Linked DNA regions of Homo sapiens. The protein of the gene in region 3 purifies or fractionates together with the protein of the main gene of each other region. This does not show direct contact. Each region holds a gene or a part of one and is shown on either strand. Other genes may lie near its edges. The genes, in order: POLR3E, MAP9, CKAP2, CAPN13, LRRC45, OAS2 and TRPM8.

Evidence for each region.
Region 1: the proteins of CKAP2 (region 3) and POLR3E purify together in Homo sapiens (affinity purification with mass spectrometry; one large-scale study listed by BioGRID and IntAct). This does not show direct contact.
Region 2: the proteins of CKAP2 (region 3) and MAP9 purify together in Homo sapiens (affinity purification with mass spectrometry; one large-scale study listed by BioGRID and IntAct). This does not show direct contact.
Region 4: the proteins of CKAP2 (region 3) and CAPN13 purify together in Homo sapiens (affinity purification with mass spectrometry; one large-scale study listed by BioGRID and IntAct). This does not show direct contact.
Region 5: the proteins of CKAP2 (region 3) and LRRC45 purify together in Homo sapiens (affinity purification with mass spectrometry; one large-scale study listed by BioGRID and IntAct). This does not show direct contact.
Region 6: the proteins of CKAP2 (region 3) and OAS2 purify together in Homo sapiens (affinity purification with mass spectrometry; one large-scale study listed by BioGRID and IntAct). This does not show direct contact.
Region 7: the proteins of CKAP2 (region 3) and TRPM8 purify together in Homo sapiens (affinity purification with mass spectrometry; one large-scale study listed by BioGRID and IntAct). This does not show direct contact.

Annotation. Positions count from the first base shown.
Region 1 is NC_000016.10:22,324,722-22,328,472, reverse strand, and holds part of POLR3E (DNA-directed RNA polymerase III subunit RPC5), read right to left. Parts: intron 3,269-3,751; coding exon 3,207-3,268; intron 2,713-3,206; coding exon 2,195-2,712; intron 1,803-2,194; coding exon of another isoform or gene 1,713-1,802; exon of another isoform or gene 1-1,712. UniProt on the Homo sapiens protein: DNA-dependent RNA polymerase catalyzes the transcription of DNA into RNA using the four ribonucleoside triphosphates as substrates.
Region 2 is NC_000004.12:155,366,749-155,370,499, forward strand, and holds part of MAP9 (microtubule-associated protein 9), read right to left. Parts: intron 2,065-3,751; coding exon 1,838-2,064; intron 1-1,837. UniProt on the Homo sapiens protein: Involved in organization of the bipolar mitotic spindle. Required for bipolar spindle assembly, mitosis progression and cytokinesis. May act by stabilizing interphase microtubules.
Region 3 is NC_000013.11:52,461,727-52,465,477, forward strand, and holds part of CKAP2 (cytoskeleton-associated protein 2), read left to right. Parts: coding exon 1-200; intron 201-636; coding exon 637-841; intron 842-3,568; coding exon 3,569-3,739; coding exon of another isoform or gene 3,740-3,748; exon of another isoform or gene 3,749-3,751. UniProt on the Homo sapiens protein: Possesses microtubule stabilizing properties. Involved in regulating aneuploidy, cell cycling, and cell death in a p53/TP53-dependent manner.
Region 4 is NC_000002.12:30,804,543-30,808,763, forward strand, and holds the start of CAPN13 (calpain-13), read right to left. Parts: upstream 2,905-4,221; 5' UTR 2,760-2,904; intron 1,725-2,759; exon of another isoform or gene 1,639-1,724; intron 1-1,638.
Region 5 is NC_000017.11:82,022,163-82,026,355, forward strand, and holds the start of LRRC45 (leucine-rich repeat-containing protein 45), read left to right. Parts: upstream 1-1,142; 5' UTR 1,143-1,481; coding exon 1,482-1,701; intron 1,702-2,115; coding exon 2,116-2,177; intron 2,178-2,530; coding exon 2,531-2,601; intron 2,602-2,837; coding exon 2,838-3,016; intron 3,017-3,216; coding exon 3,217-3,345; intron 3,346-4,193. Other genes in the region: CENPX (centromere protein X), read right to left, coding at 664-699. UniProt on the Homo sapiens protein: Component of the proteinaceous fiber-like linker between two centrioles, required for centrosome cohesion.
Region 6 is NC_000012.12:112,977,216-112,981,488, reverse strand, and holds the start of OAS2 (2'-5'-oligoadenylate synthase 2), read right to left. Parts: upstream 2,971-4,273; 5' UTR 2,881-2,970; coding exon 2,704-2,880; intron 1-2,703.
Region 7 is NC_000002.12:233,920,283-233,924,033, reverse strand, and holds part of TRPM8 (transient receptor potential cation channel subfamily M member 8), read right to left. Parts: intron 1-3,751.

The DNA.
Region 1 (3,751 bases), on a different chromosome or scaffold from region 3:
TACCCCATGGATCCATTTGCTTGCCTCATCCCTCCCTGTCTGCCCCAGCCCAGATGCAGGAACATGGGTTCCAATCCCAGCTTCTGCTACTCACCATCTCTGAGGGCCTTGGGCAGCCACAAACCTGTGCCTCTCACCTCACCATGGGGAGGAGGCCAGCACACCCCCCAGGGCCTGACAGGGCTTCAGCGAGAGGGGGAGTGTGATGGGCCCAGTGAAATGCCCGGCTTCGAGTCTGCAGATATCCTCCGTACAGTGGGGAAGCTGCGTCTGTTTCCCATCAGCCTGGCACCAACTCAACTGTGCTTTAACACCCAGAGTCCTCCCTCCTGAAGATGCCAACCCTGATGGAGGGGCGCCCCCTTCCCCATAACTCTTGGGGTACCCTGGGGGTTCTTTTCAACTGCTTCCCACATGTACCATGTCAGTGTGGGTTAGAGGCACTGCCTGACTCCCAAGCAATCCAGGCCACTTGGTCCAAAGGTAGACCAGGACAAGTGTGACACAGGCCTGGGTCCTGGAGAGAAGGGGACAGGGGAGGGGGCATCTGGGATGGTAGTTTCCAGTCCTGGTTCCATCACACAAGTAGCAATAATGGTTACTACCAGTAAAAGCCCTGTGAGGCCTCCAATACACATTTGCATTTGAGCATTAGAAACTGGGGAGGTAGTACATGGGGAAAAGTAAGCTCAGAGAGGTTTGCTCACTGTCCATGGTCACACAGCTAATAAGCAGCAGAACCAGGAGTTCAAGTCAAGTTCTCGATCTATTCACTTGCCCTGGACCTCAGCTCCCTCATGTACAACACAGAGGTGGCTGGGATCGGAGGTCTCTTACGTCTTGGATGTGACTACAATACAGTCTCCTTGTCAGGATGGCAAGGAGAGCATTACAGTTAGGGCCATGGTGTCTCCTGGAGACGCTGGCCCCACCCCAAAGCAACATGGACAGAGGGGGTCCGGAAGGAGGGGTGAGGGTGTCTGAGGGTGGCCATGTCCCACCCCTCACCTCTGTCCACTCCAGCGGCCCAAAACAACTAATGTCAGGCAGGTGTCCTGCCTGTCCTGGCCCAGCTCATGAAGAAAGGTGAGCTTGTGGAGACCCAGACCCATGTGCTGGGTGGGCAGGAGCTCCGAACTCTGCCAGTACCTCCCACAGGGGGCTGCCTGCCAGCAGGGCCGATCCCCTGAGACAGCCTAGGCTCCACAAGGCCTCCTGTCCTAGTTTCTATTCCTCATACACAGGGATGGGCCTTGGCCTCAGATCATCACCCAAGGCTGCAGGCCCGCTCCTGACCTTGGCAATGAAAACATCAATGCTTTCTTAGAGACCACCACAGCCCCACCTCACCCCATTTTGCTGCCAGGTCTGGGCAGAGCCTTGTGGAAAAGGAGCACGGGAAAGGCGTGCCTCAGGCAGCACCTGGCGCTCTCTATCCTCAGCGCAGGGAAACGGTCCCCAGCAAGCACTCTGCTCCCCCGTCAGGGCCCCTCCCAGTGACAGAAAAGCAGCCCAGGGGGAAGGGGCAGGAGGCTTGCAATACCACACTCAAGGCCTGGCACTGGAAGTGCTGAGAGCACAGCGCTGAGCTGGTCAGCTTGCTTCTGATGCACAGGGAGGCCGCCAGGACCCAGGCCCAAGCTGGGGCGTGGCGCAGCTGTGGGGAAGCAGCTCATCTTAGCTGAGCAGAAAGGATTCAAAACTCCAGGCCACTATACTGAGGTCCAAATTCCAGCTCTACTACCTCCTAGGTAGTGACCTTTAAACGTACATTTCATTCCTTGGAGCCTCAGTTTCTTCATCTGCAGATTGCAAAGAAGATCAAACGATCTTAGAAGTTAAATCATTCCAAACAATGGCAAAGCTAGTAGGAAACAGGTGTTCTTGGTGGGGGACAGGGTGAGAAACCAGGCAGGGGCCCTGTTTCACTAGGCCCTGCTGCAGGCCAGGCAATAGGCCGGGCCTTCAGACACCGTATTTAGCCCCTACCACAGTCCTGTGACATAAAACCCAACATGATCCCATTTCATGAGAATAGAGCCTCAGAGAGGCTGACTTGCCCATGTCACACCTAGGCCCACGTGAGAGCAGATGCTCACCAAGCATGGCCTCCCGTGTCCCCACGTGGCCTCCCAACAGCTGGTTCTCCCCACCCCCCACCCCCCATGCCCCTGGCAGGCAGGGCTCTACTTACAGGCACCAGTATCTGCTTGCAACCGGCGGCCAGCACCGTGTCCTGTAGCATGCGGTCCGAGATGCCGCTGAAGAGTGTGTGGCCGGGGGGCAGGCTGGCCAAGTGCAGATTGAAGAGGCGCTTGAGTTCGCTCAGCGTGAGCACAAACTGTCTCTGAAAGGTGGCCTCCACGAAGGCCTTCAGTTCCCGAGCCACAGGGGTGCTGGCGCAGCCCTGGGGCGGGTGCCCGTTGAAGCTGTCTGTGCCCGCAGCCCGCCCGAGAGGCAGCCCGTTGGCCAGCTTGCTGTGGAGGCCGCTGGGGGAAGTGTCCATGGGCTCCTCCTCCGCCTCCTGCTCCTCGTCCTCCTCGCCCTCCTCGCTCACGGGCTCCTCCTTGATCCGCACACCGGGCGGGACCGCAGGCACCCGCAGCTGCTCCTTCCGCCGCTGCAGCTCCCGCTCCAGCAACGCGTGGTTCTGCTGGGCCTTGGTTTTGGCTACTTGGATCCGCTGGTCCCCACAGACCAGCCCGGCAGGCCCTGCGGGGAGGGAGGCAGCACTGCTCAGGAGGGCACAGGGATCTGAAGCCAAAAGCCCAGCAGGGGACCGCGGGGCTGCAGCAAGTGGTCCCGTCCTGGTCTCATCCCCAACCTTTCTCGAAAATCAGCCACCCCATCAGTGGAAGAGAGAACCGTCCCAGCGTGCCGAGAGTCATGCGGGGAAGGGTGCTGCTGAGTTCCTCCCCCCAGCAGCTCTTCCGGGCCCGCTTGTTGACCCAAGAGGGTGAGTGAGCCTCAGAGACCTGGAACCCAGACTCAGCCCTGGAATCCGCAAGCCTCCGTCCCTGAGGCTCTGCTGCTGGGCAAGCGACCAGCTGCGGTCTGTGGGTGGCAGGAAAGGAAGGAGGGTGAAGGGTGAACGGTGAGAGCCCTCCACCCTCTCCAGGTCCGGGCCTGACAAGCTCTAGCACAGCAGCCCTTCCGGAGCCACAGTGTAGGAGCCGGGGCCTCCCAGCCCAAAGCCCCTCACACACCTGATTGTGCATCCGGCTTCTTTGGCATGGTTTCCTTTACAAGATTATAGACTTTTTCCAGTCTGAAAAGAAGAGTAACCCCATTAACTTTAAACCACGTCCCCTACCATCTGCTTCACAAGAGAAACAACCACCCCTTAGGCCCCAGGACACGCTGGTTACTGACAGCGCAGGCTTGGAGCTCAGCCAGCCCTACTGAGTCCCTCTTCTGGCAGAGTGCACAGCCCCAGGACCACCCAGACCCCATCAGTCTTCTGCCAACACCCCTCTGGTCCCCAGGCCCCAGCTCTTGCTCCTGAGTGCTCCCTCTCTCCATCACATCCCTCTTCCCTGAGCCCTCAGAGCACGGCCACCCTGATGAGCAGGTACTGGCTGTGTGTCCTGTGCTGAAAGGATGGTGGGATCAGCCAGCAATGCCTATCAGTGTGGGTGAGGAGCGTGGGGCCTGCGGACCCCCACCTGCCCTTCACACCCAGATCCAGCCCAACTGCGCTCTCCCCAGATGTGGGGTTTCTAGAGATTGCTCGGATCCACCCTGACAGTGC
Region 2 (3,751 bases), on a different chromosome or scaffold from region 3:
AAACTGGCAAAACAGAAAATGTGAGTACTGAAATACCTATTTAAAAAATCAAATGTAATGCCAAAGATGTCTCCACACAGAAAATTCCAGGCCCAGATAATTGTACTGGTGAATCCTCTCATTTAAGAAAATAATGATACCAAACTTTTATAAAATGAAGAAAAGACACTCCCCAACTCATTTGATACCCAAGCCTGATGGTAACATTATAAGAAAAAAATTACAGACCAATAGACTTCATAAATATAGATGCAAACCTTAACACAATTTTAACAAATCACATCCCACAATAAAATATCACACCATGACTAACCAGAGTTTATCCCGGGAATGCTAGGTTTAACATACGAACATTAATGCCCCAAAATTCATGTTCATCCAGAACCTCAAAATACGACTTTCTTAGGAAATAAGGTGTTTACAGCTTTAAATAGATAAGATGAGGACACACTCAATTAGGGTGGGCCCTAAATCCAATGCCTGGTGTCTTTTTTTAAGAGAAAGAAGAGACACAGACATGCAGAGAAAACACAGGGAAGAAGGCCACATGGGATGAAGGCAGAGAAGGGAATGATGCAGCTACAAGCCAGCTACAAGCCAAGGAATGCCATGGACTGCTGGCAACCACTAGAAAGAAGCTGGAAGAGGCAAGGAAGGATTCTTCCGTGATGCCTTCAGAGGAAAATGGCCCTGCAAACACCTTGATCTTGGACTTCTGACCTCCAGAACTAAGAGAATACATTTCTGTTGTTTTAAGTTAACCAGTTTGTGGCAATTTGTTACAGCAGCTACAAGAAACTAGCACAATATTCAATGGATCAGATAATTTTCTTAAATATAAAGTATTTGCTTGGGTTTCTTCTTCTGGTTTTCAGAACAAATTAAGAAACAGCATGGTGGTGTCAGTTAGGCGTATATCAAATTGTCAGCTTTACTGGTAAAGCTCAACTGCAGAACAAGATTTGAATTGGTAGCCTATTGTGCTTCCTAATACTTCCAGTCTGAATTAGGGGGATTCCCCCATTTAGTCATTGCACAAAAGAGCTCCTCTCAGCACCTTCTGCCTCACCTCCCAGAGAGCAGATCCTTAAGCACCAACACTGCAGACAAGCGATGAGAAAAAGAAAGAAGCTTGGCCAGGTGGCATGCAGTTCCCTAATCTGCCCAAGCAGATTATGGGGAAGAAATGTTCTTCCTGTACTTTTCCCTTCTGAAATGTTCAGAAGGGACAGTTTGCTTCTCATAGTGAAATACAAAGAGAAAAACGAAGTGTTCTCCCTTAATAACAATGCATAGTAAATTCCCTGATGGAAACCTGAAAGGCCACATTTAATGCTATTGGAACATAACCCAAAGAACACAGAAGAGTGCCATGAACATTCAACACACATTTGTTGAGTGAATAAAATCAAATAAATAAAATGACACTGACTATATTGTTCTTAGCCATAAATTACATAATTCAAAGATACATAAATTTAAAAAATTATTAAAGATAAACACTATTATATAGATTCAGAAAAGCAACACTTTTTGACATTTTACTTTCTCTAAAACTGGATAAACTCTACAATCACTGGTGTGTTATAGTTTAATTGGATGCATTTCCTTCTTCCTTAGTGGTATGTAAAATAATGCTACGTCTTACAATTGATGCAGTTTTAGACTCGGTGGAATACAGTGTATTTTTAAAAATTATTTCCTTATCAGTTGCAGAAGAAAGTATGTAAAACACACACACACGCACACAAATTCATTCTCTCCTTCTCTTTTTCATAATCAGATAAAAAAGCATAAATTCAAGAACACAATTCAACAGTTTAGTGGTAGTGCTAACCTCAGGATCAAGGTTTTCAGAGAATGCTTTTTTCTCAGCTTCTAATTGTATGCCATTCGGCGTTGGAAGGGAAGAAGGTGCAGAATGTAACTCCAATTCTTCACTGAGGGCAGTTTCTTTATCTTCTAGTCCATCCTTCTCCTCCATGTGACTTTTCTTTTTCAACATACTCCTTGGCCGAGGTGATGGTTTAAAGTGATCATCTGTGTCAAGGCTGTTGTTTTCTGCTGAAAAATAAAATGCTTAAAGTGTGTGTATAAAAAAATGACCATGGCTTTATCTATCTCTCTGGGTGCTACCATACTTCCCTCCTGTGCCTATGCCCCTTTGTTCTCTGTCCTGAAGAGTCCAGATGAAGCCCACAACTCTTCTCTATACAGAGCTCTAGTAAGGCACAAATAAATGATGGTTAATAATCAGGCCGGACGCGGTGGCTCACGCCTGTGATCCCGACATGTTGGGAGCGGTGACTCACGCCTGTAATCCCAGCACGTTGGGAGGCCGAGGTGGGCAGATCATGAGGTCAGGAGTTCGAGACCAGCCTGGCTAACACGGTGAAACCCTGTCTCTACTAAAAATACAAAAAAATTAGCCGGGCTTAGTAGCGCGTGCCTGTAATCCCAGCTACTCAGGAGACTGAGGCAGGAGGATTGCTTGAACCCAGGAGTCTGAGGTTGCAGTGAGCCGAGATCGAGATCACACCACTGCACTCCAGCCTGGGTAATAAGAGCAAAAATCCATCTAAAAAAAAAAAAAAAACCAAACAACAACAACAACAAAAAAAAAACAAAGTAAAGAAACAGTTGTCATCCTGAAAGTAACCAGTCACAAGAAGTTAACTCTTCAACATTGTGAACTCTTATAATATTAAAAAAAAAATGTTAAAAATAAAAAAACAAAACAAAATCTTGCCCCAGTTTCTACCACTATAAAATGAGGAGGCTCATCCATCAAGCCTTTGAGTACCAAGCCCTGTACACGTTACTAAACCTCATAATCAACAAAGCGGCAATGGACCTGTCCAGGTACTTTACAGGTTGATTTTTCTAAACAAAATTACAAGACTAGATTACTAAGATTATAAGTGCTATTATAAGGACAAAGATGATGATGTTGGCACTCAAGGGATAGGAGTGCTAACTCTCATTAGAGGAAGGAATCTTTTATGAGTTAATTGTTCTGAGTCCATAAAACTTCTTTAGCATTTATTAAAATTTCACTCTTTCCATTACTTCTAAGTTTAAATCAAGAATCAAATGCTGATTTGCATCCAGTATTCGAAACAATGGGAAGACTTTCCATGTATATATTTTTTGCCTGCATTTTACCTGCTATACATATTTATGTTTCTATTGTTCTACAAATGCATTTTTCTCAACTTCAAAATTGGTCTAATTAACATCTTCCTCCCATTTACCTAAAAATGGGCTTATGGATTCTGCCAGAAGATTCCACAACCATACCAAATTGGTATTATTATAAGTAGCTGACAATTTTAGCTACATCCTAAACTCCAGCCAAATGTTCAACCCCAAATCCAAGGGCTCTAGATTCCTCCCTCTATTATCCCCTAAATCCAGAGTATCAATATATCCTATCAATTCTAATTGCCAAATATCTCATTTATTCCACTTTCTACATCCCTGCTGTCGGGTCCTTATCCACTCTTTCCTAGATCACTGCTTCCATGATATTTACAAAATCCAAATCAGATCACATCACTCCTTTCTACAAAATTATTCAATGGCTCCCCATGATCCAATCCTACAGAATAAAAGCTTAACTGCCTTTAAACAACATAAAACGGATTTTATGGTTTTGTCCTTCACTGCCTTATCTACAGCCATTTTGTCATCTGTGTTTCTGAAATGCTGGGCTAACAGTTGTCATGCACACATACCACAATCCCTCCAA
Region 3 (3,751 bases):
ACCAGTTCTTCTCAAGGTATAATAAGAAATAAGACTCTATCAAGATCCATAGCATCTGAAGTTATAGCCAGGCCTGCTTCATTGTCTAATGATAAACTGATGGAAAAGTCAGAGCCCGTTGACCAGCGAAGACATACTGCAGGAAAAGCAATTGTTGATAGTAGATCAGCTCAGCCCAAAGAAACCTCGGAAGAGAGAAAGTAAGTAGATATAATTTTCTTTATTACATTAGTTTTCAATAAAGTACTGTTTGTAGATTTGGATTATAATTTCCTTGACTGCATTAGAATTTTCTTTCATGGTTTCTCTTCTGTCATATGCAGGCAAATTTATATTGTGGAACAATATGACCTAAAAGTTTTTGTGTTTGAGTATGTTTTATAAGGTTGCTTTTTAAAATCTAAGGTAAATGCTTAATAATAATTGGGAAATACTTTATAATCTCAAATCAAAAAATGCATTCATGGAATCATTGAGCATAATTGACGTTGATATGTTTAATATTTCTTCAAGCTTGTGAACTATATATGCCATTAAAGTAAGATTACTTAAAAATATGATTTTTTCTTTTAACTTTATTTGACAGAGTTCTGTCAGCAATTTCAAAGTAACGTTTATATCTGCTTCTAACTATAGAGCTCGTCTGAGTGAGTGGAAAGCTGGCAAAGGAAGAGTGCTAAAAAGGCCCCCTAATTCAGTAGTTACTCAGCATGAGCCTGCAGGACAAAATGAAAAACCAGTTGGGTCTTTTTGGACTACCATGGCAGAAGAAGATGAACAAAGATTATTTACTGAAAAAGTAAACAACACATTTTCTGAATGCCTGAACTTGATTAATGAGGTAGAGTCTTTATATTTGCTTAGCATTTTATAGTTTGCAAATTACCTTCATAAGCATTATTTCATTAAATTATATTGTCAGTCTTTTTGACCAGGTGATGTTGGTGATACTATGTTGACTTAACATTAACTGTGAGGTTATTTTAACAATTATTTAATTGCGAGATACACTGCTTCATTCATTAATTGTGAGCTTATTAGCCTTTAACTGACTACATTTTGCATTGAGTTCATATAAATATACAGGTTGAGTATCCCTTATCCAAAATGCTTGGGACCAGAAGTAATTGAAGATGTTTTTTGTTGGATTTTGGAATATTTGCATATACATAATGAGTTATCTTGGGGATGAGATCCACAAAGTTCATTTACGTTTTGTTTGTTTGTTTGCTTTTGAGACAGTCACTCTCACCCAAGCTGGAGTGCAGTGGTGTGATCTCAGCTCACTGTAACCTCTGCCTCCTGGGTTGAAGCCCTTCTCCTGCCTCAGCCTCCAGAGTAGCTGGGATTACAAGTGTGCACCACACGCCTGGCTAATTTTTTGTATTTTTAGTAGAGACAGGGTTTCACCATGTTGGTCAGGCTGGTCTCAAACTCCTGACCTCATGTGATCCACCCACCTCGGCCTCCCAAAGTGCTGGGATTACAGGTGTGAGCCACTGCGCTCGGCCTCATTCATGTTTTATATACAGCTTATACACGTAGCCTAAAGATAGAATACTTTTTATAGTTTTGTGCATGAAGCAAAGTTTGTATACATTGAACCATTAGAAAGCAAAGGTGTCACTTTGTCAGCCACCCATGGGACAGTCTGGTTGTTTGGCAACACCATCATTCCTCACTCTGAATTTCCATGCTACCAATAAGCAATTATTCTCTTACATTTATTCACACATAATTAATTAACAGTTTAAAAAAAGACACATTAATACAGTGAAAAATATGTTCAGAGTAATTAAGCAGCACAGTAGCATCATCAGAACGCCTGTATCAGCTGTTAGACAATAGCAACAACAAACAGCAGCACGTTTTCAATCTCCATCTATGATGTTGTGTTTAATTAAGAGGTATTTTACACCGTGTTTTATTTTTTTAGGTGAGAAGAAACACCAGAAGCAGTTGAGGGACCAGGAAGTGGGTTCTCTAGGGATAAGGAGGCATTCTGCTGGGTGGCTTTTTAAGATATTTACTTCAGAGTCATCTGCCTCATTAGCAATGGTTTTTGTCTTAGAAGTTTCTCTTTGATTTTATAAAGGGACATGATTTCTTTTTCTGTTCTGGATAAATGCTGCTCTAGTTCTTCAGTAAGCCTGTTGCATACTTTCACCTTGTCGCCTGTAGGTACATTTTCTGCAGTGTTAATGATGGTCATCTGCATTGTGATGTTGATACTCAAAAGTTTTGGATTTCAGATTTTGGATTTTCAGATTAGGGATACTCAACCTGTATCAAAGGGATAATTGGGTTTTTTTACTGAATTACAAATATTTGATTTCTCTGAGCTAATTAATATGTAATACACTGAGGTGATATTTACTTACTGCTTCTAATATTTTGTTTCTTACATCTATTCATTATATTTACACATTATTTTTTACGTTCATTACACATTTTACCAAAGACTAGCAACACAAATACTGTGTGAGTCATTATTATCACAGATTAAGTTACCTAAAATACTCAAAAAAAAAATCCCATTCATCTGGTCAGGTGGGGTGGCTCACGCCTGTAATCCCAGCACTTTGGGAGGCCAAGGCGGGCGGATCACCCAAGGTCAGGAGTTTGAGACCAGCCTGGCCAACATGGTAAAACTCTGTCTCTACTAAAAATACAAAAATTAGCTGGGCATGGAGGCGGGTGCCTGTAATCTCAGCTACTCAGAAGGCTGAGGCTGGAGAATCGCTTGAACCTGGGAGGCAGAGGTTGCAGTGAGCCGAGATTGTGCCGTTGCACTCCAGCCTGGGCAACAAGAGCAAAACTCCGTCTCAAAAAAAAAAAAAAAAAAAAACAATCCCATTCATCTAAGCCAACATCATCATGTTTTTGAATTTATTGCAGAATTTTGCTATTTGGACCAAAATCCTATGGAGTATAATAATCAGCTCCAGAACAATATTCTGTTTAATAATAGATAATATCTTTGTTTCCTGACTGCTCTTTAATCTTGTTTTGGTCACCCACTAGTGTGTAAGATCCACAGCAAAACTGAATTCAAGGTATGATTTCAAACTTTACTCTTCATGAGCATCTTTTAACTTCTTGTGGTTCTGAACACCAGTAAAAGTTACAATCAGGAAAACTCTTGAGTCTCTAATAGAATAGAATTAGAGTTTATTTCTGCTCAGTTTAAGTTTTTCCTTTTGATACTATGAACTTTTTCTGCCCTATTATTTAATTATATGTAACTGTGACATAAACCATTACAGATTCATTTTAATCTTAATATCAAAACCTGATAAAGACGAGGAAAAAAAACTCCGCAGACTATTCTTACTCATAAACATTTGGTAGAAGGTATTAACAAATGGAATCCCACAATATATATGAGGATAAAATCAAGATCAAATAAGTGTTCATTTTTTACTAATAAATTTCTCAACTAATGTTTCATTTTTTTGCTTTATGCTTAGGGCTATCGTTATCATTGATCTTGACTATAGTAGGCTCAATTATTGTTCCCACTTTGTAAGCTAAAAAATATTACACACATTTTTTCTTGCTTTTTTAGGGATGTCCAAAAGAAGATATACTGGTCACACTGAATGACCTGATTAAAAATATTCCAGATGCCAAAAAGCTTGTTAAGTATTGGATATGTCTTGCACTTATTGAACCAATCACAAGTCCTATTGAAAATATTATTGCAATCTATGAGAAAGCCATTCTGGCAGGGGCTCAGGTAAGATAAAAA
Region 4 (4,221 bases), on a different chromosome or scaffold from region 3:
GGCAACATTCATCCAAATATTTGATCATAAATGCTTTATATCAAGGAGCCCCCAGCAACAGCCCCCAAAATTAGTGTTCTATGTATACCATGCTTTAGGAAACACTTGACCAAAAGATAGAGTCCCAAGGGTGGTAGAAAATCAACACCTCCTCTTGATTCTGCTCCCATCTTTTGCATGGCCGTGGACTTCCTTGCTGTCTATCAGTGGCATGCTCCACCATGGACGTTCTGAGAGAGTTAGGATGCCCTCAACCTGACTTCTTCCAAACCTTGAGGAGAGATGGAATGGACCAGCCTATCCAAAGTCCCCTTTATGGTTTTCTCATGGGAGAAAGAGGTGACATCTAGGCAGGAACATTAGTGCTGTACGCAGTGTTCAGCAGATATTAATGATAATTCAGTCTTTATTAAACCTTTCTTAGGTGCCATCTCAGGTTCTCTTAGCCTCAACCTGTCTCTAGGACTCTTGGTCCCTTTTTTACTCCAGCCAAGGAAGTGGCTCTTCTGACCACTTCTGGACTCAGATGAGGTGCCAAGCCTCTAGCAATTAGATCTAGTTTTCCCAGTGGCTGCCACAGGGGTCAGAAGACACAAGCTGGAAGTGCAGGACAGTTAACTCCCCATAGGGCAAGCTTTGAACAATAAGAGAGGAGACAGAGTGAGCCAACATATAAATGTCCTCTCTACCCTTGCTCGGATAGACTCTTCCAAGGCACAATGCATCTGCAACGCCAGTCCAGAGGGGCCCTGCTTTGGCCAAGTGGCTGGTCATGTCTCTTTGTGAAGAGAGGCCAGGTGGTGGCACATCATCCCTCACTGCTTCCCCTTTTTCTCTTCCCATTTCCCACTTCCCTGACTCTCACTCCCCTGGTGTCTTACCTTAAGTGCTAAGTAGCACTTAAGCTTTGCCTCAGGCTTTGTTTTATAGAGAACCCAGGCTAAAATAATGTCAACAATAATGACTAAAATATCTTCAGCACTTGCCATGTGCTCAAGTACTGCTAAGTGCTTTCCATATAGGATCTCATTTGATCCTTTCACTGATCTTTTGGGGTAGATTACTGTTGCTACCATGTCTTAGTGATGAGGAAACTGGGACCCCCAAGAGGTTAAGGAGCATGCCCCAAATCACACAGCTCACCATATGGAAGCATCAAGCACAATGCTTGATACGGAGTGAGCCTCAGGGCCAGTAGGTTGGTCTTTTTTTTTTGAGACAGGGTCTTGCTCTGTCACTCAGGCTGGAGTGCAGTGGCATGATCATAGCTCACTGAAGCCTCAACCTCCTGGGCTCAAGCAATCCTTTCACCTCAACCATGGACCCCTCCCCCTGCCTCCAATAGCTGGGACTACAGGTGTGCACCACCACATGTAGCTAATATTTTTTCCCAGACCCCCAATTTTTAATTTATTTTTGTAGAGACAGGGTTTCACCATGTTGCCCAGGCTGGTCTTGAACTCCTGGGATCAAGCAATCTGTCCACCTCGGCCTCCCAAAGTGTTGAGATTACAGGTGTGAGCCACAGTGCTTGGCTTAATGTGTGCATTTCTTCATAGCATCTTTTCTTCTAAGGTGTTCTTTCAAGAGGGTAACTGAATACAACCAAATAACTAGGGGACAAGACAGGGTACCTACCAGGCACAGCAGAACTCCAGCTCTGTCATTTGCATCTGGTATAAACTTTTGCAGCAAGTCACTCACCGGTCCCTCACTTTTTCCATCTACAAAATGGGATAATGAACTCATGCTATATATAGCTTTTGCCTATTACACAGTTGGTAGATTATTACATTTCCATCAACCAATCTACTAATAAGTAAGCCTCCCTACAGCTGTCACTCCTCCAACCTTCAAAATAACAACAACAACAACAACAACAACAAAAACCCACAATACTTATGTCAAGGTGGGTACAAAGGTGAGACAATTCAAGAGGATAATCTGATTGAAAGTCTAGTTAATGCCACTCGGGGGTAACCAAAGTTGTGTTTGTGACCCAGGACAAATGGGACAGTCAGTAGTTCATGACCCAACTGTAACTATAGAGGGAAAATATCTGCACTTATTCTAATCTGGTTAACTTGGGTCCAAGCTGAGCAGCTGGAACTGTCTCCCTGAGAACAGCATCACATCTCAAAGATTACATAACTTTAGCAGTTACAGAGACACATGTGTGTGACCATGACACCACTAGAGGCATATAGGAACCTCCTGAATCTCTGAAGTTGTAATGATCTGTCTTTTGTGATTAACCCAGAGTTGTCAACTTCATTCCTATAACTAATAAGCTAGATGATTAGAAAACAAAGGGCCCAGGTCCCATTCTTCCCTTTAGCAAATGTTTATTAAGCACCTACTATCTAACAGAAACTACACATCAGTGCACAAAGAAGACATGATTTCTGCCATCAATGTGTCCCTTACGGTGAACACAGCCCTCAAGGTCACAACTTAGAATGATCAGAAATCGAAGGTGACAGAATGATTAAGAAATACTCTCTTTGCATGAAATATGCAAAGTTTGGATTAGATTCTCTTAGAAAATTAACTCCCACTTTGCCCTAGTTTTTCTTAAAGCATATCCTTGGACCACCTGCATCAAAAAAACCCAGCTTCCAGAGCTACTGAATATGTACCTTGGGAGGTGGGAACTCAGAAGCGACATCATGAAGCTCTCTAGAAAATTGTACATGCTCACTAATGTTTAGAGGACTGCCTTGGTCCACAGCTCTGGGACATGACCACGCACAACTTACCTGTTTCCTAGGCAGGTGTGTCTGATGGAGGAGGGGAGACGGGCAGGTTCCACAGGCTCTCAGGTTAGAGAGTGGTGGAGGAGACTGGCAGAGGAGGAGAGCATGGCCGGCCGTCTTGGAGAAAGAGCAGTGCTGGTGTCTGCTTACTCCTGACCTCAGGCTTTTCCTTATATGGGTGTACCAGGTAAAGGCAGGCTCCACCTTCGTTAAACAGTGACTTCAGCATTGGGCAGTGGCCTGCCACCTCTTGGAGAGAGAGAGGACATTGAATGTAAACAGCAACAGCTTCCAGATTCTCCGCCCCAAGCCTATCTCTGCCTTATCCCACCTCACTTCCTGGGGCCCCTAAGCTGCCCGTTTCTTGGCTCTTGCAGTTTTCATTGTTTCCAGATATTTAAGTTTCTTTATCTTTATTCTGCTTCAGGGAATTTGTGTTTTGTTTTGGTTTGTTTTACAAAACCCCTCTGCTGAGAAAAGACTGAGGGAAGCAACCTTCCTTCAGGCCTCATTCTCATACAGGAAAGTACAATTGCCATGTCTCCTGCATCAAGAGTGGCCACTCCACGTCAATCATATCACATCTCTTTCTACTAGACGCAGTATCTTCTTTCTACAAATACATTGTAGAACACATTAACTCCTGGGCATGGCGAGACCCAGGGAAGGTCTCTGCATCATCCCTGCTTGCTGGATGGGGCAGAAAGAGATGAGGCGTGTAAAGTGCATGTTTCCTGTTCTCAAATCCAAGGGGCTATTTGCTTTTCTGGCATCTTTAATTCCTTGATGTTCTTCATCCCCATTCATAAGTGCTCTTTAGAAGCCAGTTCCAGAACCCTGATCGCATGGCACACCCTATGCTATAGGCAATAATGATAAAATAGGTAAAACAGGGAAACAATGTGGAAATCACCAAAAACTGTTATGACTGGTCCATTCCCAAATTCTGATGAGTAGAAAGGGATATTTGGCACATGAATGAAGAATCTGAGAAGCTGGAAAGTATGGATATGAGTTTTAACCCCAGTTTTGCAACTTTTGGCTGTGTGACCTGGGCAAGTCCCTTCCCATCTTAGTCTATTAATCCGTGAGCTGAGGATTATGATGCTTACCCTGTCTGCCTTGTGTTTGTTTAGTGGGATTCCTGCATCCCAGCGGACACCTTCTATTAGAAATTTCACTATAAATACAGTAAACAATACACACACACACACTATTGCATAAACATCATCAGTGAATAAATACGCAGATATCTGTGGTGCATGTTCAAAATGATTTTACTAATAGAGCATGCAATGAAAAATGTTGGAAAGCCATAGTTTCAGAAAAAAATGGTGAGAAAATGCTTCAGAAAGCCCTACCCACAAGGATATATCACAAGACAGTGTCTCAAGAAAATTAATTGGGAGTTTTCTTGCTTATTGATGATGGTTTTGTCATCTCCCATCTCTAAAAATATATTTTT
Region 5 (4,193 bases), on a different chromosome or scaffold from region 3:
CCACTTCCAGGAACAGGGAAGAGCAGGGCACGCCCTCCAGCCTGGGCGGATCCTGGCTCAGACGGCCTAGGTCTGACCCTAGCCCTGCTGAGTCACTTAACGCCCCCGTGCCTCAGTTTCTCCACTGGCAGGTGGGGTTAATCCCTGTCAAGTGTGTGTAACGTGGAGCACCGAAGAAACCACGCGTTCCTAGCCCAGTGCTGGCGCCCACCGGGGAGCAAACAAAAGGGAAACCACTGTGCCTGGCGGCTGGGGTAGGTCCTGCCGGCTCCTCGGGCTGGACGATCTCACTGTCCCCGTCCTGGGGCCTCATCTCCCCTTAACAAAAGACCCCAGGCTCAGGGCGCAGGGCGGCGGCCCAGCTCCTCCTCTCTCTTCGCCGGCTTGGACTCCGCCGTGACGGCGCCCACCCCTGCCTGTTTCTGCAGACCCTCTCCACCTTCCCGCAGCCCCGGCTGCTCCACGCCCCCTCCTACCAGCTGCGAGACACCAGCCCACGAGGGCGCGGGGCGCGCGGCCCGGCCGGAGATGGAGTCTGAGAACGGGCCCAACCTCAAAGGCACAGGGGGCGGCGCGGGGGCTGGCGTCTGGCCCTCACAGTGTCACGCGTGAGGTCGGGACGGAGCGTCCGCGCCTGCCTAGCCCCTGCCCTCCGGCCCTCACCTTCCGGAAGCCGGATCCAGCTCCTGCTCCCTCCATGACCGCAGCCTCAACGCGCGCCCACCGGAACCCCGCCCCGCGCCTCCAGCCAATGAGACCGGAGCGCGCCCCCGGAGCCCCGCCCCGCGCCCCTAGCCAATGAGTCCGAAGCGCCTGCTCTCGGAGCCCCGCCCCCACGTCTCAGCCAATGAGCCCGGAGCGCGCCCTCCAGCAGCCCCTCCCTCACGTCCCGCAGCCAATGAACTTGGAACGCGCCCTCCCGGGGCACCACCCTCACGACCCTCAGCCAATGAGCCCGGAGCATGCCCTCCCGGGGCCCCACCCTCATGCCCCTAGCCAATGAACCTGGAGCGCGCTGCCCCCTCTCAGCTTGCGGCCCGAAAGGCGCGCCAGTTCCTTTGTTCTCATTGGCCCGCACCAAGCGCTGCCTGCGCAGAGCCTGCTAGGAGTTGTAGTTCCCGCGGCCTCTCCCGGCGCGCCTTGTTCTTCCTGGATACTGAGGCCCCGACGCGGCTGTCGCGAGGGCGGGGGTCGGGGCTGCAGGCGGGGCAGGGCTGGGTGGGGGCGCGCGACGCACCTGCCTGCTTCCTGCACGGGTGGTCCCCAAGCACTGCGGGGCCCCAGCCCAAAGCGGACCTTGACTACCGCCCAGCCCCGCGCTCCCAGGACCTCCCGCCCGCGGAGCCCACTCGGATTGCTCTCCGCCCGGGTCGGCGGAGGCCCCGTCTCCTGTACCCGGCGCTGGGACTGCTCCGCACCGCGCGGCTCCCTTTCAGCAGCTGCGGGAGCATGCGGAGGAGGCCCTGCCGGCCCCGCGGGTCATGGAGGAGTTCCGGCGCTCCTACAGCCGCCTGTGCAGGGAGAGTGGGGCCGAGCCCCAGGAGGCTGTCCTGCAGCAGCTGCACCAGCTTCCCAGGGGCCGGCTGGACCTGGCCACGCAAAGCCTGACGGTGGAGACCTGCAGGGCCCTGGGCAAGCTGCTGCCGAGGGAGACGCTGTGCACGGAGCTGGTCCTGAGTGACTGCATGCTCAGCGAGGAAGGTGGGCAGGCGCGGCGGGGTGGATCCCTCTGCTCCTTAGCTGCCCACACCATTGCCTCGGCAGCCCGAGGTCGCTTCCTCTCCAGGCTCTCCAATTTCTGTGCCGTAGTTAAAGCGAGCAGGGGCGCCCCTTCCTGCACCTGGGAGTAGAGGGCAGTTCCTCTGTATGACGGGGGAGAGGCCTTAACATTCGCGGTCTTACCTGGTTCCCCGCGTGCAGAGCCGGCTTGGTGCCTGGCAGGGGCTGCAGGTGTTTCAAACATGACTTCGCAGCGAGACTCTTGGCCAGCGCCAACCCAGACCATCGGGACAGTTGTCCCTTCCTGGGTCTAGGGAGCTGCCCTGAAAAGGGGCCCACGGGGAGGGCCTTGGGGTCAGCAGGGGCAGAGAGTGACCGCCGGCCCCCCTTACACAGGGGCCACACTGCTGCTCCGAGGCCTGTGTGCCAACACCGTGCTGCGCTTTCTGGACTTAAAGGTGAGATACCTGCACTCTTGAGTGTCCGAGTGTGCCACCCAAGGGCAAGAGGAGAGGTGGAAGATGCCAGGTCTCGGGGGCCTGGGGTCTGGGCAGGTGGCTGGAAGCTGTCTGTGAGTCCCCAGGCCGCTCTCTGATGGCCTCCTGTGTGTGACCATCTCCAGAGCAAGAGTTCACATTGGCAAACAAGCCGGCCCTTGGAAGCCCCCTGAAGACAGGGAGCCCAGGAGCTGAGGAAGGCTGCAGGGTGCACCCCAGGCTTGTCCCCTGGCTGACCAAGGCCCTTGGGGCATGGGCGGGAATTCAGAGCCAGTCAGGGCACGCGAGTGACTACCGGCCTGTTTCTCTCCTAGGGCAACAACCTTCGGGCTGCAGGGGCCGAGGCTCTGGGAAAACTCCTCCAACAGAACAAGTCCATTCAGAGGTGGGTGGTGGTCCCGACCCCAGGCCCTGTCTCTGTGTGGTTGAGGATTGGCCCCGAGCACATGCTTCTGCAGCCCAAGAGTTCCCCATTGCCAGGTGCCCATGTTTCACATACGTTGGCAGGGGTAGGCAGAGGCTCCGGCCCATCAGACCCCAAGCCCACACCCGTCCCCAAGCCCTGGACCCCACGGGCTAGGCAGTCCCCTAGGTGAACACTGGCTTCTGCCCCTCCTGCAGCCTCACGCTGGAGTGGAACAGCCTGGGCACGTGGGACGATGCCTTCGCCACCTTCTGCGGGGGCCTGGCGGCCAACGGCGCCCTGCAGCGGCTGGACCTCCGCAACAACCAGATCAGTCACAAGGGCGCGGAGGAGCTGGCCCTAGCCCTGAAGGGCAACACCACCCTCCAGCAGCTGGGTGAGGCCTCCCAGGCGCCCTCAGGCTCCCTCATCCCTCTGAGGCTGCCTCTGCTCTGGGAAGTGAGGGGCTAGGGGACTGGCCTGTGCTCCTGCTCTGTTGATGACTGCAAGGCAGTGCCCCCTAGGGAAGCACCCCGGCCAGGCCAGCTCCCCCTCTGCCAGGTGCATTCTGTCTGGTGACTACAGGTTTCCTTCCAGACCTGCGCTGGAATAACGTTGGCCTCCTGGGGGGCCGGGCCCTCATGAACTGTCTCCCCAGCAACAGAACCCTGTGGAGACTGGACCTGGCTGGGAACAACATCCCTGGAGACGTCCTCAGAGCCGTGGGTACGGTGCAGGGCTGTGTGGAGTGACGCGTGAGCCTTTGACAGAGGCCTGTCCACCGAGGGCGGGGTGCCGGGCTCAGGACGGGAACTGATGAGGAGAGCAGCCTGAGAGCCCAGGGGAAGCAGGAAGGAGCGGAGGGGTCGTGGGGCACCTGTTTGGCACTTGAATGGCGTTCGCCACACATGGGCACTGTCCGAGGCGCCCTGTGTACTTGCTGAGTTCTTAGGACCTGTGCAGTGGAGGGTGCCCGTTTCACAGCTGGGGAAGCTGAGGCCGTGTGGCTCACAGTCCTGGCCTTGGTGGCTTTGCTGATGCTTCGGGTGGCCCAGGTCTTGGCCTTGGCCAGGAAGGCTCCCTGGTCACCCTGAGTCTGTGGCCCTGCATGTGAGTCAGGTGAGGTGGGGCCCCCTGGCTTGTGCTGGCCTCCACACATTCCCTCCCACCAGCGACCCCGAATCCTTGCAGCTGATGTCTCAGCCTCAGGCCCCAGTGCCCCAGACTCAGCTGGGGACTTTGCCAGGCCCCCCGTACTCCCTAATCCGCGCACAGCGGCAGCCTCTTCCAGCCCCTGTGCTGAGGGCTCATCCCTCCTGCTGGTTCTGCCTGGCCTCTGACTCCAGCTGCGCCGTCCCTGGCTTCGCCTCGGCACTGCCCTGGTTGTTGTCATCCCTCCTGACCTCTGCCCCCTCGCCACATGCTACCCAGATCTTTCCAGAACTGAGCTGGGCACAGCATTTGCCTCAGCATTGTGCAGTGCCCCTTGACCTTTGGGATGGTGGCCAGATGCCCCAGGATGGCCCTTGCCTTTTGCGGTGGAGCAGCTCCCACCACCTCTGCCCCACATGTGC
Region 6 (4,273 bases), on a different chromosome or scaffold from region 3:
CATTAGGGAAAGGATACTCTCTTCAATAAATGGTGTTGGGAAAACTGGATATCCATATGTAGAAGAATGAAACTAGGCCCCCGTCTGTCATCTTATAAAAAATTAACTAAAAATGGGTTAAAGAGTTAAACATAAGGCCTGAAATGATAAAATTAATAGAATAAAGCAGAAGAGTAATGCTTCATGATATTGGTCTATGCAAGTATTTTGTGGCTAAGACTTCAAAAGCACAGGCAACAAAAACAAAAAATAGACAATTGGGACTATATTAAATGAAAAAGCTTCTGCACATCAAAGGGAACAATCAAGAGTGAAAAGACAAGCTGTAGAATGGGAGAAAATATTTGGAAACTATTTTTCCAACAAGGGTTTAATATCCAGAATATACAAGGAACGTGAACAACTCAACAGCAAAGAAAACAACCCATCCCATTAAAAAGCAGCCAAAGGGCCTAAATAGACATTTCTCAAAAGAAGACATACAAAATGGCCAATGGGTATATGAAAAAATGCTTGACATCACTAATCACTAGGGAAATGCAAATCAAAACCACAATGAGATACCATCTCACCCCAGTTAGAATAGCTATTATCAAAAAGACAAAAAATAAACGCTAGCAAGGATTTGGAGTAAAGGGAATCTTACACACTGTTGGTGGGAATGTAAATTAGCACAGTCATTACGGAAAACAGTATGGAGGTTTCTAAAAAAAATAAAAATGGCACTGCCATTCAATCCAGCAATCCCACTACTAGGTATTTATCCAAAAAAGGGATAACTGCACCCTCATGTTTATTGCAGCACTATTCACAAAAGCCAAGATATGGAATCAACCAACGTATCCATCAGCAGCTGAATGGATAAAGACAATGTAGTATATATACACAATAGAATACTATTCAGACACAAAAAGAATGGAATTCTGTCATTTGCAGCAATGTGCATGGAACTAGAGGTCATTATGTTAAATGAAATAAGTCAGGCATAGAAAGACAATATTGCATGTGTTTATGTGGAAGTTAAAAAAAGTTGATCTCATGGAGGTAGAGAGTAGGATCATAGTTACCAGAGGCTGGGAAGTAGAGGAGGAAATGAAGAGAAGTTGGTTAATGGATACAAACATACAGTTAGATAGAAGGGATAAATTCTAGTGTTTGATAGCACAATGGGGTGACTATAGTTAACAATAATTTATTATATATTTCAAAATAGTTAGAAGAGAAGATCTGAACTGTTCTCAACACAAATAAATGATCAATGTTTGAGGTGATGGATATCCTAACTACCCTGATCATTTCACATTGTATCCATGTGTCCAAATATCACATGTACCCCATATAAATATGCACAATTATGTAAAAATAAAAAAACACAGTAGAATGGACAAATGTGGAATATTCACATAATGGAATTGACACAACAATGAAAAGATAAACAACTGTACCCCACAACATAAATTTCATAAACATCATAGGTCAGAGAAACCACGCACTAAAGCACACAGAGCCCATGATGCCATTTATGTAGGGTTCACCCATGCATCCTGGTTTACATTCCCAGCTTTCACACCAAGAGTCCCACATCCCAGGAAACACCCCAATCTTGGATGAACTGGGATAGTTGGTCACCCTATAATTGTAAAACGTTTAAAAACAGGCAAAACGTGTCTATGCTGTTAGAAGTCAGGAGATTGCCTACCTGGGTTTGGAGGTGCTGACTGGATCGGGGGCCCAGGGCTCTGGGGGGCTGAGAATGTTTTGTTTCTGGATCTGGGTGGGGGTTACACAGTTACATTGTTTGTGGCTACCTATCAAGCTGGACACTTTGATCTGGGCACTTTTTCTGTTTTACTTCCATGAGGAAAAAAAAATTGAGAGGCAGGATAGTGTAGTGGTTAAACATGCATGCCCTCAAGCCAATTACCCAGGCTTAAAATCCCAGTTCTGACAATAGCTATTAACCAAACTTGCCTTAGCTTGCTGGCCTGGGCCAGGGCTGGGGACACCACGTGTCTAGATTTCTTTATTGAGGCACTAGCGGATGTGTGCAAGGGGTAGAGACCAAAAAGTGTGGCAGCAGCAGAGAAGGGACGTCAGCAGCTCAGGAGGCTAAGAGGATAGTATTGGGCCATCAGGACCCCCACGCCCCCAATTCTAGGGTCCTGGCATCTCCCCAGTCCCCCTTCCTCCCCAGAGGTCCAGAATTTTCAGCCTCAGTCCTGAGATTTGTGTCCACAAAACCAAATATTTCTAACTGATAAAAGCCACTCCTTCTTGCTGCGGAGAAACCACAAGGCAACCTGGGTAGTTTGAACAAAGTTCTCTAGCCTCCCTAAGTTTACTCCTCTGTACTGTGGAGAGGATAGAAGAAAATCGCAGTGAGTAATCACAGTGAATTCACTGAGCACTGCCAGTCTTTTGCTAAGAACATGATGTGCTCAAGCCTTACGATACTCTGAAGTGGGTATTATGCCTCTCCCCATTTTACAGAGTCAGAGACTGAGGCACAGAGAGGTTAAGTAGCCTGCCCAGTGTCACACAGCTCTGGAGCAAGCGCCTGCTCCAGAGCCTGAGACTCCTACACCACATCCCACCCAAGTGTGGGCCTCGCACATAATAGGCACCCAGCACCCAGTAGCTCGGCCTTGCTGCCGCCGTGGAATCTCCTGCCTCCCAGAGACCCAACCTCAGCCCTGGACTCACTATGGCCACTCCCTGCACCAGGGGGAACTGTTCGGGTTCCTGCAGGACGTCACAGATGGTGTTCACCATCTCGTCGATCAGTGTCTGACATTCTTCGTAGGGCTTCAGGTATTCCTGGATAAACCAACCCAGCTTCTGAGCAGGCACCGAGGACAGCTGGGACTCCCCATTTCCCATTGCTCTCAGCTGGCTGCCGGCAAGACAGTGAATGGTAGGATGGGAGGCAGAGGAATTCTTGCTGCTGCCCAGAGCCAGGAAACTGAAACTGAAGTCTAGAGGCCTCTCTCCACCCACTGCAGCGAGCTTACCAACTCTTGTATCCGGGACAGGGAAACAAAACTAACTTAAGCTCAGAGGCTCTGCCCTGCCCCTTGCAGTGAGTTTACCAACTCCTGCATCCGGGGCAGGGAAACCAAAACTAACTTAAGCTCAAATGCTCTTCCCCGCCCCTTGCAGCAAGGTTTACTGACTCCTGCACCCCAGCAGGGAAACCAAAACTGACTCAAGCTCAGAGGCTTTCCCTGTCCCCGGCAGCGTGGTGACCAGCCCTTCAGGGGCTCCCCAAAACTTGAGGTTAACTAAACAGCCTCTAGAACCCCATTGTGAGGGCTTCATACCTGCTAGATGTCTGTCCTTGAGCACATCGCCTGCCCTCTTCGCGCCTCAATTCCCCCATCTGTAAGCTGGGGGAAAATGGCAGCTCTCTCGTAGGATTAGCTTGATGATTAAATAATACCTGCAAAGTGCTTAGAAGCAGGGGCGCACAGGTCATCTTTTGAGGCTCTGTCCCTTTCCCCCTGTTCTCAGTGGCCAGGGAACTCACATTCAGGGAAAGCGGCAGAGAGGAAAAAGAGACCCAGAGAGGGAACTGACTTGCTCAGGGACACACAGCAAAGCAGGGACCTAGCTGGACTCAGGTTTTGGTCTGCTTCTGGGTAAACACAGGCCCCCGTGTGGTCAGCGGGTGGGAACCTCTGTGTGTCCAGTTTCTCAGCACACTTGTGGACAGCCGAGGGACCGTATGAGGCACTTGTCCAGCCTCGCAAGGGCAAGAAAACACACCCCAAGTGTGTGAGCCAGAAAGGAGACAGACATGCAACTCCTGTGCCCAGAGCTTTGAAAACAAAACTCGCAGAGGACTCCCAGCCAGCTGCCTTGGCCCAGCAATAATAATTCACAGAGAAGGCAAAAATCTCCAAGATGTAGTGGGGGACCAGGGCCCTTCCATACTGGGATGGTTAATTTTATGTGTCAAGTTGGCTGAGCCCAGGTACCCAGATATTTGGTCAAACATTATCCTAGATCTTTTTGTGAAGGTATTTTTTAAAGATAAGATTAACATTTACATTGGTAGACTTTTTTTTTGAGTAAAGTGGATTATCATCTGTAAGGTGGTGGGCCTGATTCAATCAGTTGAAGGCCTTAATAGACTAAAGACTGAGCTCCCCCAAGGAAGAGGGAATTCGGCTGCAGTGCCTTGGCCTCCACTTGCAGCAGCAACTCCTTCCTGGGTCTCCCACCTGCCAGTCTACCCTGCCGATTTTGGATTTGCCAGCCTCCACAATCACAT
Region 7 (3,751 bases), on a different chromosome or scaffold from region 3:
AAAAGTAGTTGTTTTTATTAGAGTTTTGATCTGGTAAAGAAAATCCTGACTGCAGCCTCCCTGCTCTTCTTTCTGCCCAGCATGTTCCCCTTATTCTGAAGTCCTGATGGTTTACTGATTCTAACCAGATATTGGTCCGAAATTTTCACATTGATTGTAAGCCTCTTTACATGCAAACTCAATTTTGGCTGTTTTTGTTTTTTTCCAGCTCTGGACAGTTTGTTGTTGTTGTTGTTGTTTTATTGTTTTCTAGTTACAGCCTCCCCAGGCAGAAGAGAGAGTGAGGTGCTTCCCCAGGCACGACAGAAGCTGAGACTAGAAGTCTCAAGACCCATGAGTGAAATGCTTAATTGACAGTCGTCCTTACTTCTAATGAAGCTGGCACCCTAATCAAGTGTGGCAAAGACTGGCAGCACCGTGTGACCCCATGTCAAACCAGAGGATGTGCTCGAGATGTGCAGTGGATGCCGGCCCATGGAGCCCTGCGTGGTAACCTGGTGCCGGCAGCATTGGGCAGGCAGAGCACGGCAGCAGGGGACATGGGGCTGTGTCCCTCCACTTTAGCCCACCCCACCAAGGAGGGAAAACCTTGGTACAGCTGCACCACACCTAGCTGTGGCCATTGCTAGAGGAGCCATGGAGAACACTGGAGATTTGTCATGTCAGTAACAGGCCTTTCCAAAGAAAAGAATGTTCTACTTACAAGAGACAGTCATCAGAAAATCAACAGAATAAATCTTCCCCAAGATAAAGAAAGATTTGAGTCTTCACAATAAAAACCTCACTGGGTCTGCTGCCAAGCAAAATTAATAGGGCCAGAGGTATCCAGATGAAATCATTTAAGTATAAGAATAAACATAAAAATGGCCGGGCACGGTGGCTCACACCTGTAATCTCAGCACTTTGGGAGGCTGAGGCAGGCGGATCACGAGGCCAGGAGATCGAGACCATCCTGGTTAACACAGTGAAACCCATCTCTAACAACAACAACAAAAAAAATTAGCCAGGCGTGGTGGCGGGTGCCTGTAGTCCCAGCTACTCAGGAGGCTGAGGCAGGAGAATGCGTGAACCTGGGAGGCGGAGCTTGAAGTGAGCCGAGATCGTGCCACTGCACTGCAGCCTGGGTGACAGAGCGAGACTCTGTTTCAAAAAAGAAAAAAGAATAAACATAAAAACATACAAGCAATATAGCAGAAAAAAATTACTAAAGGAGAAAAACCAGGCTGGTATAAAACTTCTCTTCTTCAACACTATAAACTAGAAGAAAATGGAACAGTGTTTACATTTTTTTAAGAGGGAAAAGATTGTGATCTAGGAATTGTATCCTGAGTCAATTCAGCTGTGAGGGCAGTAGAAAGACACACTCAGGAATGGGGAACAAGGAAGGCAAACACTCACATAACTTTAGGCAGCTCTGGAAAGGGAGACAGGGAGGCTGGAGGGAAAATGTCAGATATAAATAATAAGTAGAGATGACGTGGTAGAGGTTTTTTTTCAGTTTAAATGTTTATATTTTATCTCAATGCAGAAAGAGTTGAAGAAACTTACTAAAATATTATGTAAAGCAAAGGAACCAAAGAGAAATAAATGAGCTGAGGATAAAATAAGAGAAAGAGACTGGTTAAGTGAGGAGCTTATCCAGCCACAGGGGAAGCCTGTTCCAAGGTCCTCAGGGGGCACTAGAAATCATGCCCTAAACTTACCAATGGCCAAAGCAAAGGGATTGTAAAAAGAAAATAAAATTTTAGGACCTTCCAGGTTGATTATGCCAAGGGGAAAAGTGAAGCTCTGAAAACAGAGTCACATAGCACAGCTATTTTTGCACAACCCTTGCTGACTGACTTTTGCAAGGGTTGTGCAAAACCAGATGGAGATGTTCTACCTTAACCGGACTCCCTATCCTTCATTCTAACCTAGACTTAATTGATGTTGGAGACAGAGACCCTTGCGACTGTAACCTCTTTACAATAGACTGTTAAGCAACCCCCTTAGAGTATAAACAGTAGTAGTCAATCAAATCTTACATTTGTACAGTAGCCTTCATACAGAAAATGTGTTTCTGGCCGGGCATGGTGGCTCACGCCTGTAATCCCAGCACTTTGGGAGGCCAAGGCAGGGGGATCACTTGAGGTCAGGAGTTTGAGACCAGCCTGGCCAACATGGCGAAATCCCATCTCTACTAAAAATACAAAAATATTAGCTGGGTGTGGTGGCGGGCACCTGTAATCCCAGGTACTTGGGAGGCTGAGTCACCAGAATCCCTTGAACCTGGGAGGTTGCAGTGATCCGAGATCACGCCCCTGCACTCCAGCCTGGGTGACAGAGTAAGACTCCATCTCAAAAAAAAAAAAAAAAAGAAAAGAAAAGAAAAAGAAAAAAGAAAAAGAAAAAAAAGAAAAGAAAAAAGAAAATGTGTTTCTGTTCGGCACCTCTGGCTTTGCCTGTATAAATGATTCTCCCTTTTCCCCATCCCAGGTGCAGTGATCACCATCCTTTGCTGTCATTCTGCTGTCTGGATGGCGGCCCTCATCTTTGCACTTGAATAAACTCTTTTAATTGGATCCTGAGCCTTTTGATTATTTTAGGTTGACAGGATGAACATAGTCAATTACAAGCTTCAAGGCATCCATAAACTAACTTCAAACCCACATTCCCTGATACAGAGGCCAGGGTGAAAAGAACTCCTACATTTGGGGACAGGTAGGATGAGGAGGATGGGGTGATTGTAAAGGGGCAGAGTGAAGGGGCTTTTCTAGTGATGGAACAGTTCCAAAATTCGGTTGTGGCAGTAGTTATACGAATCTACTGACGTGATAAAATTGCATTAAACTATACACACATGAATGAATGCATGTCCAAGTGGTGAAATCTGGGGCCGGGCGTGGTAGTTCATGCCTGTAATCCGAGCACTTTGGGAGGCCAAGGCGGGTGGATCGCCTGAGGTCAGGAGTTCGAGACCAGCCTGGCCAACATGGTGAAACCCCATCTCTATTAAAAAAATACCAAAAAATTAGCCAGGCATGGTGAAGGGCACCTGTAATCCCAGCTGCTCAGGAGGTTGAGGCAGGAGAATCACTTGAATCCAGGAGGCGGAGGTTGCGGTGAGCCAAGATCACACCATTGCACTCCAGCCTGGGCAACAAGAACTAAACTCCATCTCAAAAAAAAAAAAAAAAAATGGTGAAATCTGATAAAGCCTTTGCATTGTGCCAATGCCAATTCTCTGGTATTAATCTTGTATGATAGTTACATGAGGTGTCACCATTGAGGGGAACTGGGTGAAGAGTACACAGACCCTCTCTATGCTTTTTCCTCTTCCACTTCCTGTGAAGCTATAATTATCTCAAAATAATAAGTTAAAAGAAAAATGCCTATGCCAAAAGCACACTGGGCCACATAGTGGTAAATATCCCTGCACAGCCATGCAAGACTTACAGCACTAAACTTAGCCTGGCTATTTCTTAGAATGTCCTGAATGCAAGTTGAAGCTATGCCATGAAAGTAAAATTCAATGGAATTATCTCCATGGCAGGCCCAAAGGAAGGGACCTTCACAGAGAGATAGCTAAGGATTTGTCCAGTTCTAGGATTTACTTGTTTAACTATGTCAATCTTTGCTTTCATGTTTTTAATCAATAATCTCAATTATTTCTATTCATGGTCTTTACTCTCAAAAATTTCAAATGGGCCTGATGAATTTAATGGAATCTTAATGACCACCATAGAGATAACCTCAGTAAAAATTAAAATCA